Linked DNA regions of Homo sapiens: regions 2 and 3 are each linked to region 1. The links come from fine-mapping of genetic effects on gene expression. A gene starts in region 1. Each other region holds a variant in brackets. All regions are shown on one strand. Distances are between the middles of the regions. Region 1 holds the start of APTR (Alu-mediated CDKN1A/p21 transcriptional regulator). Region 2 overlaps APTR (Alu-mediated CDKN1A/p21 transcriptional regulator). Region 3 has its middle 50 kb from the start of PTPN12.

What was found. PIP is the estimated chance that this variant, and not a neighbour inherited with it, causes the effect. A credible set is the group of variants that fine-mapping cannot tell apart.
Region 2: its variant is the best candidate, but not a certain one, in a credible set for the expression of APTR in amygdala (GTEx, PIP 0.75).
Region 3: its variant is the best candidate, but not a certain one, in a credible set for the expression of APTR in whole blood (TOPMed, PIP 0.88).

What each region holds. Positions count from the first base shown.
Region 1 is chr7:77,693,970-77,699,198 of GRCh38, reverse strand. APTR (Alu-mediated CDKN1A/p21 transcriptional regulator) reads left to right here and starts at 2,934. Exons shown (of 2, transcript NR_134254.1): 1 at 2,934-3,303. It overlaps RSBN1L (round spermatid basic protein 1 like), which reads right to left and starts at 2,740. Exons shown (of 8, transcript NM_198467.3): 1 at 2,144-2,740. The coding sequence starts at 2,729. RefSeq lists silencers at 1,520-1,619, 1,910-2,229, 2,700-2,919 and enhancers at 2,440-2,669, 1,854-2,749, 2,750-3,645.
Region 2 is chr7:77,665,066-77,670,294 of GRCh38, reverse strand. The region is part of intron 1 of APTR (Alu-mediated CDKN1A/p21 transcriptional regulator); the gene reads left to right. Among named protein-coding and RNA genes, the nearest start is that of APTR, 29 kb to the left of the region's middle. The variant T/A (reference allele first, on the strand shown) is at 3,235.
Region 3 is chr7:77,484,257-77,489,485 of GRCh38, reverse strand. No RefSeq gene overlaps it. Among named protein-coding and RNA genes, the nearest start is that of PTPN12, 50 kb to the left of the region's middle. The variant T/C (reference allele first, on the strand shown) is at 2,969.

The DNA.
Region 1 (5,229 bases):
TGAACCATGCACAGCCAACTTAGGGCAACACTAAAAAGAGGTATATACCTAAACAAACACTTGGTCACCCATTCACTAAGATTTTTACAAAAAGCACAGAGAAATGATCATTGTATTGCAAATCAGGACTTTCATATTTGCAATTATATCTATAATAAAGGCATATATGTATTCTTGCTATACCACTTGTTAATACCGCTATTTAAGAATCTTCTTAATTCGTTAAAACAGAACATCAATTCAGTTAAATCCAAACTTTAGAAAGATATAAGTATTCCCCAAGTTACGAGGGAAAAATTTTCACCATTAAATTTACCACCAAGACACTGGAAAGGAATCTTTTTCTCTGATAGTTTTTCCTCAACAAGATAGCATTTGTGTCTGAAAAAATGAAAATCTTACAGTAGTGTTAATATCTTGTCACTACTCCAAAAAACCCACATAGGTCATGGGAAAAGATCATTCCCACATCTTAATGTAAAACCTATCACTGTTTATATTCAGGATTAATAATATTAGTGTTAACCCTCAAAAGAAGAAGGATTCTAAATGTAATTGAAAAGACTATAAAAATTCCTCTTTAACAGCCATTTCACTTTAAGGACCATTTGTGTACTCCACATTTTAAGTTAGAATTGTTAAAGAATGCTTACTTATTTCTTCTCAAATATTCCATTACTCCAACTATGTAATACTCATATTCACTTCCTCTTTCAGAGAACTTACAGCAAATGTGCAGTTTACACACCACAAACACTAGTGATGATACCAAGCTGCATATGGACAAACTTCCAGGCACTTATCTCCTAAATTTTACATATAAATTGTTAAAACAAAATAGCTTTAAAATACTAATCACCTGGAATTCCTGACTAAAAGTACCAAAATCCCATCCTCAAAACCACTTTCCTAGAAACAACACTCCCAGAAGCTGAAAGATATTTACATTGCACCAGAGTCCCTGATGGCTATGCTTAGATGTTAAAGCTTTGCTACAGGCAAAAAATATCAAGGAAGAAGTGACACTATTGCTACATGCACATGCAGCATGTTTTAAGTTGTGAAAACAAACCATTATAATCCAAACAGAATTTTTCATGATCTGAGCTACTGTTAGATCAGCAATGCTGAAACTGCTTGACATTTCTTTTTCTAAAAAACAAAAAGAGTTATTTGACAACACTGTGTAGCAGTGCACATTTATAATAAAGATTATGCGCTTTAAGCTTGCGATCACATAAAGATTTGATTTTCAACTAGTCCGTATGTTGCACTATTGTCAGATCATTGTGTATCCGTAGCTGAAGTGGTGGAAACACCTGAAAAATTATACGACTAGCCTACATTTAAAAACAAAACTGACCCTGTCTGACAAGAACCCTTAAGAATTCGCCTTTTTCTAATGCTCAAACATTCTGCAGCCGCTTGATCTGGCGAAAAATCGTCAAAGCTCCTGGTTTTATCATTTGCTGCAGGGAAAAAAAGAATATGGCTGAAAATTCTTTCAGAAGGGTGGTATTTCAAACAGGACCACCCAAAACACTTAAGAATACGCAGCGGAGAGTAGGGTGCAGGGAGGGTACCTTACGAAACAGCGCACTTCGGGCCCTGCACGCTACCTCATTTCCCTAATAGGGATGAAAAGCTCAGGCCTCTGGTAGCTTCCAGCTGACGCCAGTGCTCTCTCCACACCCCTTTTTTGACAGGATTATCCGGGGTTGAACGCTGTGTCACAAATACGAATTCCCGCGACCACGTCTAAGTGGTCTAACAATCAATCAAGCATCTTTTACAAAACCAAACCCTTCCCCCATCCCGTTCCCTCCATCTCTCTCCCTAGCCAAACAAACCTAGGAGAGTCCTCAAGATGGATTTTCACAAATCCTGCAGCGCACTAACTGGGAGGAAGAAACGATACAGAAAATAAGAGTGTCGGCCATCCCCCTCTCTGCAACCGAAATTACAGGCTCCATTTCCTGTCCCCTTGGGAACTGCAAAATCCTCTGCTGAAAACCGGACGCCTCCCAGCCCCTCCAGGCCGGCGCACGCGGCCGCCGCGCTCCCCCTTCCCGGGCCCCGTGGGCGCCAGGGGGCGGCGGGGACCCACGGCGCCCTCCCCTCCCCCTCCCCGCACGGCACCCACCTCGGGGCAGCGGCTTCACCTCCCCGTTCTCCTCCCGGGAGGCCCCGCCGGCCTCTCGGGCCCCACCGAGACCGTGCCTCCTCCTCTCCTTCTCCCGCTTCTCCTTAGGTCTGCGCGACTTGGCGTTAGCCGAGGCAGCGGCGGCGGCGGCGGGCAGGAGGAGATGGTGAGGCTGAGCGTGCAGCAGCGTAGGAGGGACCAGCAGTTTGCGCGGCACCGGCTGAGACAAGGAAGCGGAGGCTGAGGAGGGAACGGCCGTGCCAGCGGAGAAAGAGAAACTGCTCCGAGAAGAGGACGGGGAGGGAGCAGCAGACAGAGGGGCAAAGCTCCAAGACGCGGGGCTGCCATAGCTCTGAGGCGAAGGTGCTGCCGGCGGCTGCAGCTGCCTGCTGTTCCCGCCGCTGCCCCCTTCTCCGTTCACTCTCCGCGGTGCCTTCTTCTCCTCAGTCCGGACCTTCTTGGCGGACAGAGAACCCGGAGGGTCCCGGGAGGAGAGTTGCAGCTTGCCAAACGGTTCTTTCTCCGAGACGGTGGCGGTGGGGGCCGCGGCAGCGACACAGTGCACGGGGCTCGGCGGTTCCGCCATTTTGCGCTCCTGTTGTATTTACTCTCCTCCGCTAGCCGGCGCGGGGCAGGGGGCGGGCCCTCCGCGAGGGGTAGGGAAGGGGCGGAGCGGCCAGGCCACCAGCCGGCATTGCTCCATTGGGCAAGCCACGCTGAGGGATCCACCTAAGAGCCAATCAAAGGCACAAACATCAGACGAAGGGGCGGGATCGCCACAGGGACCCTCTTCGGAGGTCAGAGCTCGGCGGGGTGCGGCTAGTGGCGGAGCGCGCTGCGAGGGGAGGGCTTTCCACTGTCGCTGGCGTGAACTCGCGTGCCCGGTGGGTATCAGGGAAGAACCCCCGCCCCGGACCCCCAGATCTGCCATGGCCGAGGTAGCGATCGTCTCTGCGGCCACGAAGACTGTTTTAACTTGTACCACTTTCCCTTCCATTTTTCCTGGGGTGCCTCTCACCCTGCATCTGCGCGTTCAGCAAGCTGGATTTCGGGAATGCTCAGTTCAGAAGAGAAAAAATTGCCGGGAATCAAGTCCTTCTTTTTGTTAGTCGGTAGTCGATTGATGGGAAGTGTTCAAAATCATTCGATGTGGTGACAAGGTACGTTATTATTGCTAGATCATGTGCTGTAATCCATTGAAGGAGATAACTTCCAGCAAATCTAGAACTTTAGTATTACTTACAAGCTTGAAGGTGAGAGTCTCCCTTTGGAGACTTTTGAACTGTTGTGACTAGACCCTTAAGATTTTTATTTTATTTATTTATTTATTTATTGGGACGGAGTTTTGCTCTGTTGTCGAGGCTGGAGTGCCGTGGCGCGATCTCGGCTCACCGCAACCTCCGCCTCCCAGATTCAAGCGATTCTCCTGCCTCAGCCTCCCCAGTAACAGGGACTACAGGCGTCCGGCACCATGCTTGGCTAATTTTTGTGTTTATTAGAGACGGGGTTTCACCATGTTGGCCAGGCTGGACTCGAACTCCTGATCTCAGGTGAGCGGCCCACCTCCGCTTCCCAAAGTGCTGGGATTACAGGCGTGAGCCACCATGTGCGGCCTTAAGATTTGAATTTTATAATAATTATTATAGCCGGGCGCGGTGGCTCACACCTGTAATCCCAGCACTTTGGGAGACCGGGGCGGGCGGATCACGAGGTCAGAAGTTCGAGACCAGCCTGACCAACATGGTGAAACCCCGTCTCTACTAAAAATGCAAAAATTAGCTGGGCATGGAAGCGCGCACCTGTAATCCCAGCTACTGGGGAGGCTGGGGCAGGAGAATCGCTTGAACCCAGGAGGCGGAGGTTGCAGTGAGCCGAGACTGCGCCACTGCACTCCAGCTTGGGCGACAGGGCAAGACTCCGTCTCAAAAAATAATAATAATAATAATAATATTATTATTATTATAACGTAGACTTGCCAGGAAAAATTCGTTGGCGATTATTTATGGATGTTTGAAAAGCAAGAATTGTTTTTTTAGGTTTCTGTATTTTAGCGTTTAGTAAGCACACTGCGTGTTCGATGTTTTGTAAGCATGTGCTTTGATTTTTGCTTCGAAAATAAGCAATTTGGGGAGATGGGTTTTAGCTTAAAAGATAAGGAATGTGGCCGGGCGCGGTGGCTCATACCTGTAATCCCAGCACTTTGGGAGGCCAAGGCGGGCAGATCACAATGTCAGGAGTTCGAGACCAGCCTGGCCAACATAGTGAAACCCTGCCTCTACTAAAAATACATAATTAGCTGGGCGTAGTGGCATGCGCCTGTAGTCCCAGCTACTCTGGAGGCTGAGGCAGAAGAATCCCTTGAATCTGTAAGGCAGAGGTTGCAGTAAGCTGAGTTCGTGCCATTGCACTCCACCCGGGGCGACAGTGCCTATTTACTCATTTTTTTAAGAATATTTTTAAGAATTTTTTTTTTTTCGGCCAAGAGTGGTGGGTGGCTCACGCATGTAATCCCAAGACTTTAGGAGGCGGTGATGGGTGGATCACCTGAGGTCAGGAGTTTGAAACCAGCCTGACTGACATGGTGCAACCCCGTCTCTACTAAAAATACAAAAAAAATTAGCCAGGCGTGGTGGTGCGTGCTTGTAGTCCCAGCTCCTCGGGAGGCTAAGACAAAAGACTCGCTTGACCCCTGGAGGTGGAGGTTGCAGTGAGCTGAGATCGTGCCACTGCACTCCAGCCTGGGTGACAGAGTAAGACTCCATCTCAAAAAAAAAAAAAAGAATGTTTTGGAGTCAAATTTAATATTGGTTTATGGACTTATTTTTATGTGCCTCAAATTTTTTAAAGTAATAACAGTATTTAATATGTAACATGAAAACTTTCTAATTGGAATTGACTGGCAGCAGATGTCTTCAAGAAAATTAGCATTGGTGGGAGAGTGGACTGAGTGGATTAGGCTGGAAATCATCTGCTAACGCACTAGTTTCGTGACCTTAGTCAGGCTGCTTCACTTGTTAGGACCTCCGTTTTCTTACCTGTTGAGTTAGCATATTTGATTACGTGATCACTAAGGTCCCTTCCACACT
Region 2 (5,229 bases), 29 kb after region 1:
CTTGCTATGTTGCTCAGGCTGGTCTTAAACTCCTGAGTTCTCCCACCTCAGCCTCCAAAAGTGCTGGGATTACAGGCGTCAGCTACCATGCCTATCCACATTTTGTTTTTTTGTTTTGGTTTGGTTTGGGTATGTCACTTTTTGATATTAGGTGATCCAAAATAATTTATCTTGGTATGCAAGATGTTCAAGGAACAAACATCTACAATAAGGTACCAAAGTTTTGAATTATTTATCTGTGTATATGTATGTATACCCACACAGACCATTATGAGGCATTTTAGAAATCACTTTCTCACATGCATTCCAATATAATTTCCTGAGAGAGAAAGGAGTTCCATGCAGGGAGTTATACATAAACCACAGCCTACTTTTATGGCCATTTTGAATTACTTTTGTATTTCAAATTCACTTTTTAAAACTTCACCCATGGGGCGGGAGGATTGCTTGAGCCCAGGAGTTCGGGACAGCAGTGAGGTATGATCATGCCACTGCACTCCAGCATGGGCAACAAAGCAAGACCCCCATCTCTAAAAAAATCAATAAATAAAGGAAACTTCACCCATACCCACAGAAGAGAAAATTGTGAATGAGTGCATCAACATCTACAGTACACAAAAACAGTAGTCTCTGAACATTGTTAGTAGGGTCCTAACAGTTATGATAGCCAAGTGAAAACTCTCAAAGGAAAGTGAAAATATTCCTTATATCAATAACATGGAGGGAATCTACCAATTTTATGTTTTTAACAATAAATTTTATGCCTTTTCAAATAATGTGTACTTGTTTTATTGGTGTTGTGAGTAAAGGCTGGGGGAGAAATCATGATATTTAAAAATTAGATATGCTACATTTTGGCAATTCTTACATAACTGATTTCACTATTGTTGAATTCTTAACATTAAGTGAACATCTTTTGTTTTTCTTTTTGTTTTTTGTTTTGTTTGACAGGGTCTCACTCTGTCATCCTGGTTGAAGTGCATTGGTGCGAACACAGCTCACTGCAGCCACAGCTTTCTGGGCTCAAGTGATCCTCCCCCCCAACTTCAGCTTCCCAAGTAGCTGGGACTGCAGGTGTACGCCTGCCCAGCTAATTTTTTATGTTTTATAGAGGCAGTGTCTCGCTTGTTGCCTAGGCGGATCTTGAACTCCTGGGCTTAAGTGATCCTCCCACCTTAGCCTCTCATAGAGTTGGGATTATAGGTGTGAGCCACTGGACCCAAGGCTTTTCTTTTTTTGAAACAGTCTCACTCTGTTGCCCAGGCTGGAGTGCAGTGGCATTATCAGAGCTCACTGCAGCCAAGACTTCCCAGGTTCAAGCATCCTCCCGCCTGAGCCTCCCTAGTAGCTGGAACTACAAGCACTTACCATTACACCAGAATAATTTTTTTAATTTTTAATTTTTGTAGAGATGGGGTCTCACTATGTTGCCCAGGGTAGTCTCGAACTCATGGGCTCAAGTGATCCCCCTGCCTCGGCCTCCCAAAGTGCTGGGTTTATAGGCATGAGCCACCATGATGCCCAGCCTTAAGTGAATATTTAACAAAATGATTTTGTAGTATTATTTTCTTCATTTACTAATAAAATTGTTGCAGGGTGTTTTTTTTTTTTTCCTTTTTTCCCCAAATTTGAGTACATCCATGGAAATACATCATACAGATAAACATCATCCATTCTTTGTGATAATGTGGAAAAAAGATTAAGAAACTGCCCTTTAATACTATTTGTATTAAAGAGTATTATTTGGGGATATTTGGGGATAGTTGAGAAATCACTAACCGTTGATGGAAATTTGATTGGGTTTTTTGAGGATAGTCCAAAAGTCATCAAGTACCGATGGAACTTTATCATTCTAAATTCCTTAGAGACTTAAAATTATTTCTTGGAAACTTAAACTTCAGGCTAATGTTGTAATATCACAAGCATCCATGAACGTATCATTTTAAGTAAGAGGTGGTATCTTCTACTCTCCTCCTCTTCAGTCCAGGCCACTGTGATAATGTGCTTATAGATGTGGTAATGCCTCCTCTTGGTACCAAAGCCACATTCATTAGCTTTGTCAAAATAAATGATACCAGTGATACTAATTTCTTGCACTCTCAGTGATGGAACAGGATTTCAATGAAACAGTCCCTTTAGTTTTTACTTTTTTATCACAGCCCCCTTAAATTACAACCCCCTTAAATTAGAACTCTGGTGTGAATCTGTATGAGCTAGAATGGGTGAGAGGTTACCAGGACAGACCCTCGGAATTATCCTTTCACTCAAACACTGGCCTAGGCAGAGATCATTCTTCATGATCTCTGTGCATTTCTGCACATCTGGTGAGTGAAGCACTGACTGCCCTTCTTTCAGGACTCTCTCTTCAGGGATGTTTGTAGAGCAAACAGTCTTAGAGGATAGGAATAAGGTTTTCCAGAGCAAAGGGCAAGCAAGTTTATTGCCACTATAAAAGATTCAGGCTCCTGAAGCTGAAGGTTCCCCTTCTGTAAAGCAGCCCACTGCAAGGGCAGATGCCATCTGGCCTTCTTTGCCTCTCCCTATGGAAATTGGGACTTTGCTAACTAATGCCAAAAACAAACCACAAAACTGATACTCTGGCTATTGCTATGGCTATTGCTGTGAGTAAGAAACTCTTCATTCTGGCTCAGGACTATGATATCTTCTGCCAGCATCCATGTGCCAGGCGAACTTTTTAGCTTGTAAGTTGGGTGAAATCTGAGATTGTTTACGGTTTTTCACATTGCCTTAAACCAAATGCACGCGCTCTGACTCCCAAAAGGCTATTTTGTCCCTTATGTGAATATATCCTCCGGTGGACTAACTCCACCAGTGTTCCAGATGGACGCCCCCATGGCTGAGTCCTAGAGGGAACAGAGCTTAGACTTAAATCGGGACCCCTGCTACACAACTCTGCCAGTGTAAATTATTGTCATTATCCAAAGGCAGACTTCTCACTGTGCTCATTATGATGCCTATGTCACAACTAAGGAGGCCCTCCCCCTTGACATACACTCTGCCTCTGTCCTGCCGCTTTATATCCCATGGCTCCCATGAAGTCTTCCTCAGTTATTCCACCTGTGTTAGATCTTTTTCAGTTGCATGGAACAGAAACTCAACTTATAATTAAAGATTAAACGCTGGCTAATGACCAAAAACTAAAGTGATGAAGACATTCATTACTTGGTTTGTTTATCCTTGTATTCTCACAGTTAATTTCCTTGATTAAAAAAA[T/A]ATATATATATACTGACTGACGGGGCGTGGTGGCTCACATCTGTAATCCCAGCACTTTGGGAGGCCAAGGCAGGTGGATCACTTGAGGTCAGGAGTTCAAGACCAGCCTGGCCAACCTGGTGAAACCGTGTCTCTACTAGAAATACCAAAAAATGGCTGGGCACGGTGGCTCACAGCTGTAATCCCAGCACTTTGGGAGGCCGAGGTGGGTGGATCACGAGGTCAGGAGATCAAGACCATCCTGGTCAACGTGGTGAAACGCCATCTCTACTAAAAACACAAAAATTAGCCAGGCATGGTGGCACGTGCCTGTAATCCCAGCTACTCAGGAGGCCTAGGAAGGAGAATCGCTTGAACCAGGGAGTCAGAGATTGCAGTGAGCTGAGATCGAGCCACTGTACTCCAGCCTGGCGATAAAGTGAGAGTCTGTCTCAAAAAAATAAAAATAAAAAGAAGAAATATGGCCTGGTGCAGTGGCTCACGTCTATAATCCCAGCACTTTGGGAGGCCAAGGCGAGCAGATCACCTGAGGTCGGGAGTTCAAGAATAGACTGACCAACATGGAGAAACCCTGTCTCTACTAAAAAAACAAAATTAGCCGGGCTTGGTGGTGCATGCCTGTAATCCCAGTTACTTGGGAGGCTGAGGCAGGAGAATCACTTGAACTCGGGAGGAGGAGGTTGCAGTGAGTCGAGATCACACCACTGTACTGCAGCCTGGGCAACAGAGTAAGATTCTGTCTCAAAAAATAAAAATAAAATAAATAAAAGTGCTGACTGAGTTTATTTCTTGGTTTAAAATGGAAACTTATTAAGTTCAGGCATAAATGTAAAATGAAAACATCCTTTTACTAATAACCCTAATGGCATTCTTGTCTTTAGGATGAGGAACGTAAGCCTGTAACAGAAGGAGCCTAAGAGCCCATTTACATTTCTGGAGCTAAAGGCAATGTACCCCAGAGACCCATTTTATCCCCTTCATTTTCTTCTTACCAGAAGAACAATGCAGGATCCTTGCTTCTACACATTCCTGGGCATTTTCTTCTCCGTATCTTTTTTCCAAAAGATATCCTTTCCTTCTTACACAGAAAGGTGGAGAAAAAAAAGTCAAAGGATACAATTTCCACTTTCTTTAACCCATGCTGTGTGCCCAATTATGTCTCCCCAAAAATTCATATATTGAAGTCCTTAAATACCCAAGAATGTGAGTGTATTTGGACACAGGATCTTTAGAGAGGTAATTAGAGTAAAATGAGGTCATTAGAGCAGGCCTCCTTTTTCCCTTTTAATAATAGATCCCTGGCTGGGCGCAGGGAATCGCTTGAACCAAGGAGGCGAAGGTTGCAGTGAGCCGAGATCGCGCCACTGCACTCCAGCCTGGGCGACAAGAGCGAAACTCCATCTCAACAATAAAAATAAAAATAAAAATAAATAATAGATCCCCTCTTCACTCAAAATGATGGGTGGGCACATGACTTCCCAGCTGGAGACATTTCCCAGCTTCCCTTGTAAATCAGTGTGGCCATTTGAACTAGGTTTTGGTTAATGAGATATAAGTGGAAGTGATCAGCATTCTTCTGCTTTAATGACCTCAAGAATGAACTTGCCTACTCTCCACACATTGCCTTACTCAGGGCTGGAATATGGACAGGGTACTGGTGAGCTACTTCAACCCCATGTGGTTGAAGACAACTGCCTGTTACTCAGATATGGAATCTAAATGCAGAGGCAAGTAGAGACATGGCCAGCTGGGTCCCTGGATGAACTCATGTCTATCTTCACAACTGTTACAGGGGAGAAATAAACATTTCTTATTTAAAACAGTTATTTCAGCAAGTTAGCCTAAACATTAACTAATACAGCCAGCAGTAAACTAGTGCTTTTGTGTCAGGCAGTGTATTCAGCTTCTATATAGATTATCTGCTTTAACCCTCACAACAGCCCTGTGATCTTGATGCTGTTATTAACCCTGTTCTATCAATGAAGAAACTGAGGC
Region 3 (5,229 bases), 210 kb after region 1:
CTAGCATGCTGTTCAGGAAAGTGTTTTTATATTTACTCTTCATTGATCTAAGGATACCCTGGCCACATGGTTGAATTAATAAAGTCACATTTTGGGGAAAGTAGATGGCATAAACATTTTTGATGAGAATTTCAGCAGGAGGGTGAATAGAACAGTTGTCACGTGTAACAAAATCTTGCAGTCATCCTCCAGTTTAGCTTCCCTGCAGTGAGCATGAACTTCTGGTACAAAACATTGGAGCACCAATCAGAAAATATGTCCCTGGTGATCTGTGCACTTTTGTTAGCATAATAATAGTCTGGTAAGAAATCCACTCCCTTAAAATAGTGAAGACATAAGCTTTTGCCTGTCACAGCAAGTTTACAATGTGTTTGTGTGCTGCATTAGCATATCCCAGTACAGTTATTCTGTCCTTGGCATCCTTAATTCCTATAGGGGCTTTCTCATCAGCTGTAGTCAGTGTCTTCCTGGGGCAGTAACACAAAACAGTGATGTTTTATAAGCATTATAGACTTGTTCTGGTGTCAGATTTTCATCAGTGATAACTTGGGCACGCTCATCAATCATTGCTGCTTTATGATCAGCAGATGCTTTATCACCTCAAATTGTAAAAAAAATAATGTTGTGTCTTAAATGTATGCAGCCAGATATATTGAATATTCACAGTTCCCTTCAATTTCCAGTTCATCATAAGTCTTTGCTCATTTCATTATCAGCATGACATTAAGTGGCAAGTGTTCACTGCATCGCTGACCGATCCAATTTTTCAATACATGATCAAGACCATTATTTTTAGTTTTATGCAGTGTTTTTCTGTTTTTACTAATTTTTATTCATTATTTTTAGCATAGAACTCCAACTGTTTATCCTTCTATTGTTTCAGGTCATATATGGTGGTCATTCTGACACCATACTCTTCTATTAAGATGTTTCACATTCGCACCACTGTCCAGTTTCTCCAACAGCTTGACTTTCTGTGCTATCCTATAAACATAAATGCTTCCTCTTTTGTTGGTATCTGCAGGCCTTTTGAACATTTTTTCAGCAACATCTTTACACCACAGGGTAGAAAATAAACAAGAAAACACAAGGAGCAATGCATGTAGGTCTTTACTACATGTAGGGCATTTTGGGGAACCGGCTGTTGGCACATCCAGTCTGCACATGTGCTATTTTATTACGTTTTATGGGTGTGCTTTCATGGAGGAATTTGGTCATGCACAGAAAATATATATTGCAGCTGAACTGGGGTGGAAGGGTCTTTTTTCCCTTGGAGACATTGAATAAACTCTGTGTTGTATGCCTGCATTTTTACTGTGATCCATCACTTGGGGTCAGGTGTATCAGACTTTGGAGAATTTTGGATTTCAAATTAGGGATGCTCAACCTTTGTGTGTGTGTGTGTGTGTGTGTGTGTGTGTGTGTGTGTGTGTGTGTGTGTGTGTGTTTTGAGACGGAGTCTTGCTCTGTTGCCCAGGCTGAAGTGCAGTGGCGCAATCTCGGCTCACTGCAAGCTCTGCCTCCCGGGTTCACGCCATTCTCCTGCCTCAGCCTCCGGAGTAGCTGGGACTACAGGCACCCGCCACAACGCCCAGCTAATTTTTTGTATTTTTAGTAGAAACGGGGTTTCATCGTGTTAGCCAGGATGGTCTCGATCTCCTGACCTCGTGATCTGCCCGTCTCGGCCTCCCAAAGTGCTGGGATTACAGGTATGAGCTACCGCGCCCGGCCAACCTTTGTGCATTCTTAATCCCATCCACAGCATCTCAAGTTAAGTAACTTGGCCAACAAAGTGCACCAAGTGGGCGTGATAATGATAGCAATGACATGAGGAAACTGTTTCCAAAGGGGATTAGGCAACCTCCCCAAAGTCGCTCACTAAGAAAGTGGCAGAGCCAGTTCTAACTCCATAGTCCAAAAGCAGCACTGTCAGCCTGGAAAGACTACAGAAACTTATAATCTTGGCCAGGCGCGGTGGCTCACGCCTGTAATCCCAGCACTTTGGGAGGCCGAGGCGGGTGGATCACAAGGTCAGGAGTTCAAGACCAGCCTGGCCAAGATGGTGAAACCCCGTCTCTACTAAAAACACAAAAATTAGCCGCGCGTGGTGGTGGGCACTTGTAATCCCAGCTATTCGGGAGGCTGTGGTAGAGAACTGCTTGAACCCGCGAGGCATAGGTTGCAGTGAGCCGAGATTGTGCTACTGCACTCCAGCCTGGGTGACAGAGTGAGAGTCCGTCTGAAAAATAATAAAAAAAAGGAAACTTATAATCTTAGAATTGAAAGAGACTTCATAGATCATCTAGTTTGTTCAAACTCCTCCAGCACACCAATTTTACATATGTAGAAACTGAAGTACAATAATATTAATGTGCTTTCAAATGAGGATAAGATGTGAAAGTATTAGTTCAATTGAATTCTTTGTTGAGTGTGTTGTAGGTATTCACATTTTAGTAAGTAAAGAAGAGGATGCTGTGATAATATCTGGACAGAAGGATGTTGCTGGCAGTGGGCTAATGATCAGTGAATGAAGTGAACAAGATCCAGGTGTTTGTGCTATACTGGGCTCCCCACCCACATTCCTCATAGTTCCCCTATTTTCCTGTCATATGCTTATAAACTGTTGAGGGCAACATGGGAGTTTAGAGAAATCATAAAGGTGTATTTTAGGAGTATGCAGTTCCCCCAAATTAGCCTGTTCTTTACCAGTTTCCAGTTGGAAGTACTTTTGTTATCAAAAACAATTACAAGAAATTGCCCATTAAAAGGAAATATGAGTAGATCTGTAAGCCTGAACTGTAAGGTTCTCTAGATGGTCTGTTTACTAGATCTCTTGCAGAATAAAAATCATTTGTAATGTGATAGGGTCTTTTTTTGCTTTGGACAGAAATGAATACTTTACTCATGGTATTTCATTTTTAACAACTCCTGGCCTGGCACGGTGGCTCACGCCTGTAATCCCAACACT[T/C]TGAGAGGCCGAGGTGGGCAGATCACCTGAGGTCGGGAGTTCGAGACCAGCCTGACCAACATGGAGAAACCGTCTCTACTAAAAATACAAAATTAGCTGGGCATGGTGGCGGGCGCCTGTAATCCCAGCTACTCAGGAGGCTGAGACAGGAGAATCACTTGAACCCAGGAGGCGGAAGTTGCGGTGAGCCTAGGTCGCACCATTGCACTCCAGCCTGGGCAACAAGAGCAAAACTCTGTCTCAAAAAAAAAAAAAAAAAAAAAAGGGCAACTCCTTTGCTTCTCATTCAAAGCAAAGCTCATCCTCCCCTACTATCTTCAGTCATGTCCAGTTAAGTGTACACACTCCACAAAGCTACCTTCTATCAAAGAACTTTTTCCTGTGAGAGAGCCACTTCTTCCAGGATACAGATTCTACAAACTCCCTCTCTCTAAGGAGCTGGTTCCAGTGTTTCTCATCCTTATAATCAGGAAGTTCATCTTTGCGTTTACCATATACAATCCACCACATTTCTCCTGGCTGTGCTTGCTGTGCCACTGGGACAAGCTAGACAAAATTCAGTTACTAGGGAACCTTACCAAACTCTCAAGGGATTGGCTACTGCCATGTGAAGTACCAGGACAAATTGTAATGTGCCCACCATGCCCTTTAAGTGACAGTAATCCCCCTCTGATGCCCAGCTCAGTCTGGCCACTCCTGGAGATTTTAGTACTCCCAATTTATTGTAGCCCTCTTCCTCACATTCCCCAGCAAAACAACTACTATTAGCTATTAAGTGTGGAGAAAAGTGATTATCTAATTAAATATTTTCCATTTAACTATGAATAATTTTAAAAAGACTTTTTTCTCCCCAAGTATTTACTTTTTAGAGTAAGCCCCTATTGATTAAGGAATAAAATGCTTTTTACTGAATAATATTAGTAGTTGGGGCTAATATTGCCTCCTTTCAGCCCTGCTTAGAAATAAGTTTAGAATAAGCACAATCAGAAACGACAAAGGTGCCATTACAACTGATTCCAAAGAAATACAAAAGATCCTCAGAGACTCCTGTGCACATCTCTACACACGTAAACTAGAAAACCTAGAAGAAATGGATAAATTCTTGGAAATGCACAAACTCCCAAGATTGAATCAGGAAGAAATTGAAACCCCAAACAGACCAATATTGAATTCCAATATTGAAACAGTAATAAAAAAATCTACCAATCAAAAAAGCCCAGGACCAGATGGATTCACAGCTGAATTCTCCAGACGTACAAAGAAGGGCTGGTATCAATTCTACTGAAACTATTCCAAAAAATTGAGGAGGAGGGACTCCCTCCTAATACATTCTATGAAGCCAGCACCACCCTGATACCAAACCTGGCAAAGACGCAAGGAAACAAGACAACGACAGGCCAGTATTCCTAATGAATACAGACGCAAAAACCCTCAACAAAATACGAGCAAACCAAATCCAATAGCACATCAAAAAGTTAACTCACCATGATCAAGGAGGCTTCATTCCTGTGATGCAATGTTAGCTCAACATATGCAAATCAATAAATGTGATTCACCACATAAACAGAATTGAAAACAAAAACCGTATAATCATCTCATTAGACTTGGAAAAAGCTTTTGATAAAATCTAACATCGTTTCATGATTAAAAAACCCTCAACAGGCTAGAGGCATCAAAGGAACATACATTAAAGTAATGAGCCATCTCTGAGAAACCCACAGCCAACGTCATGCTAAACAGGCAAAAACTGGAAGCATTCCCCTTGAGAACAAGACAAGGATACCCACTCTCACCGAGAATCCCCACTCTCACCACTCCTATTCAACATAGTACTGGAAATACTAGCCAGAGCAGTCAGGCAAAAGAAAGAAAGAAAGACATTCAGATAGGAAAAGAAAAAGTCAAACTATCTCTCTTTGCAGACGATATGATTCTATACCTAGAAAACTCTAAAGACTCTGCTAAAAGACTCCTGGAACTGGAAAATGGCTTTAGTAAAGTTTCAGGATACAAGATTAAATGTACAAAAATCAGTAGCATTTCTACACAACAATTATGTTAAAAATTAGAGCCAACTCAAGAATACAATCCCATTTACAATATCCACAAAAGAATAAAATACCTGGGAATACGACCAAGGAGATGAAAGATCTCTACAAGGAGAACTACAGAACACTTTTGTAAGAAATCACAGGGCCAGGAGCGATGGCTCACGCCTGTAATCCCAGCACTTTGGGAGGCCAAGGCGGGTGGATCAGCTG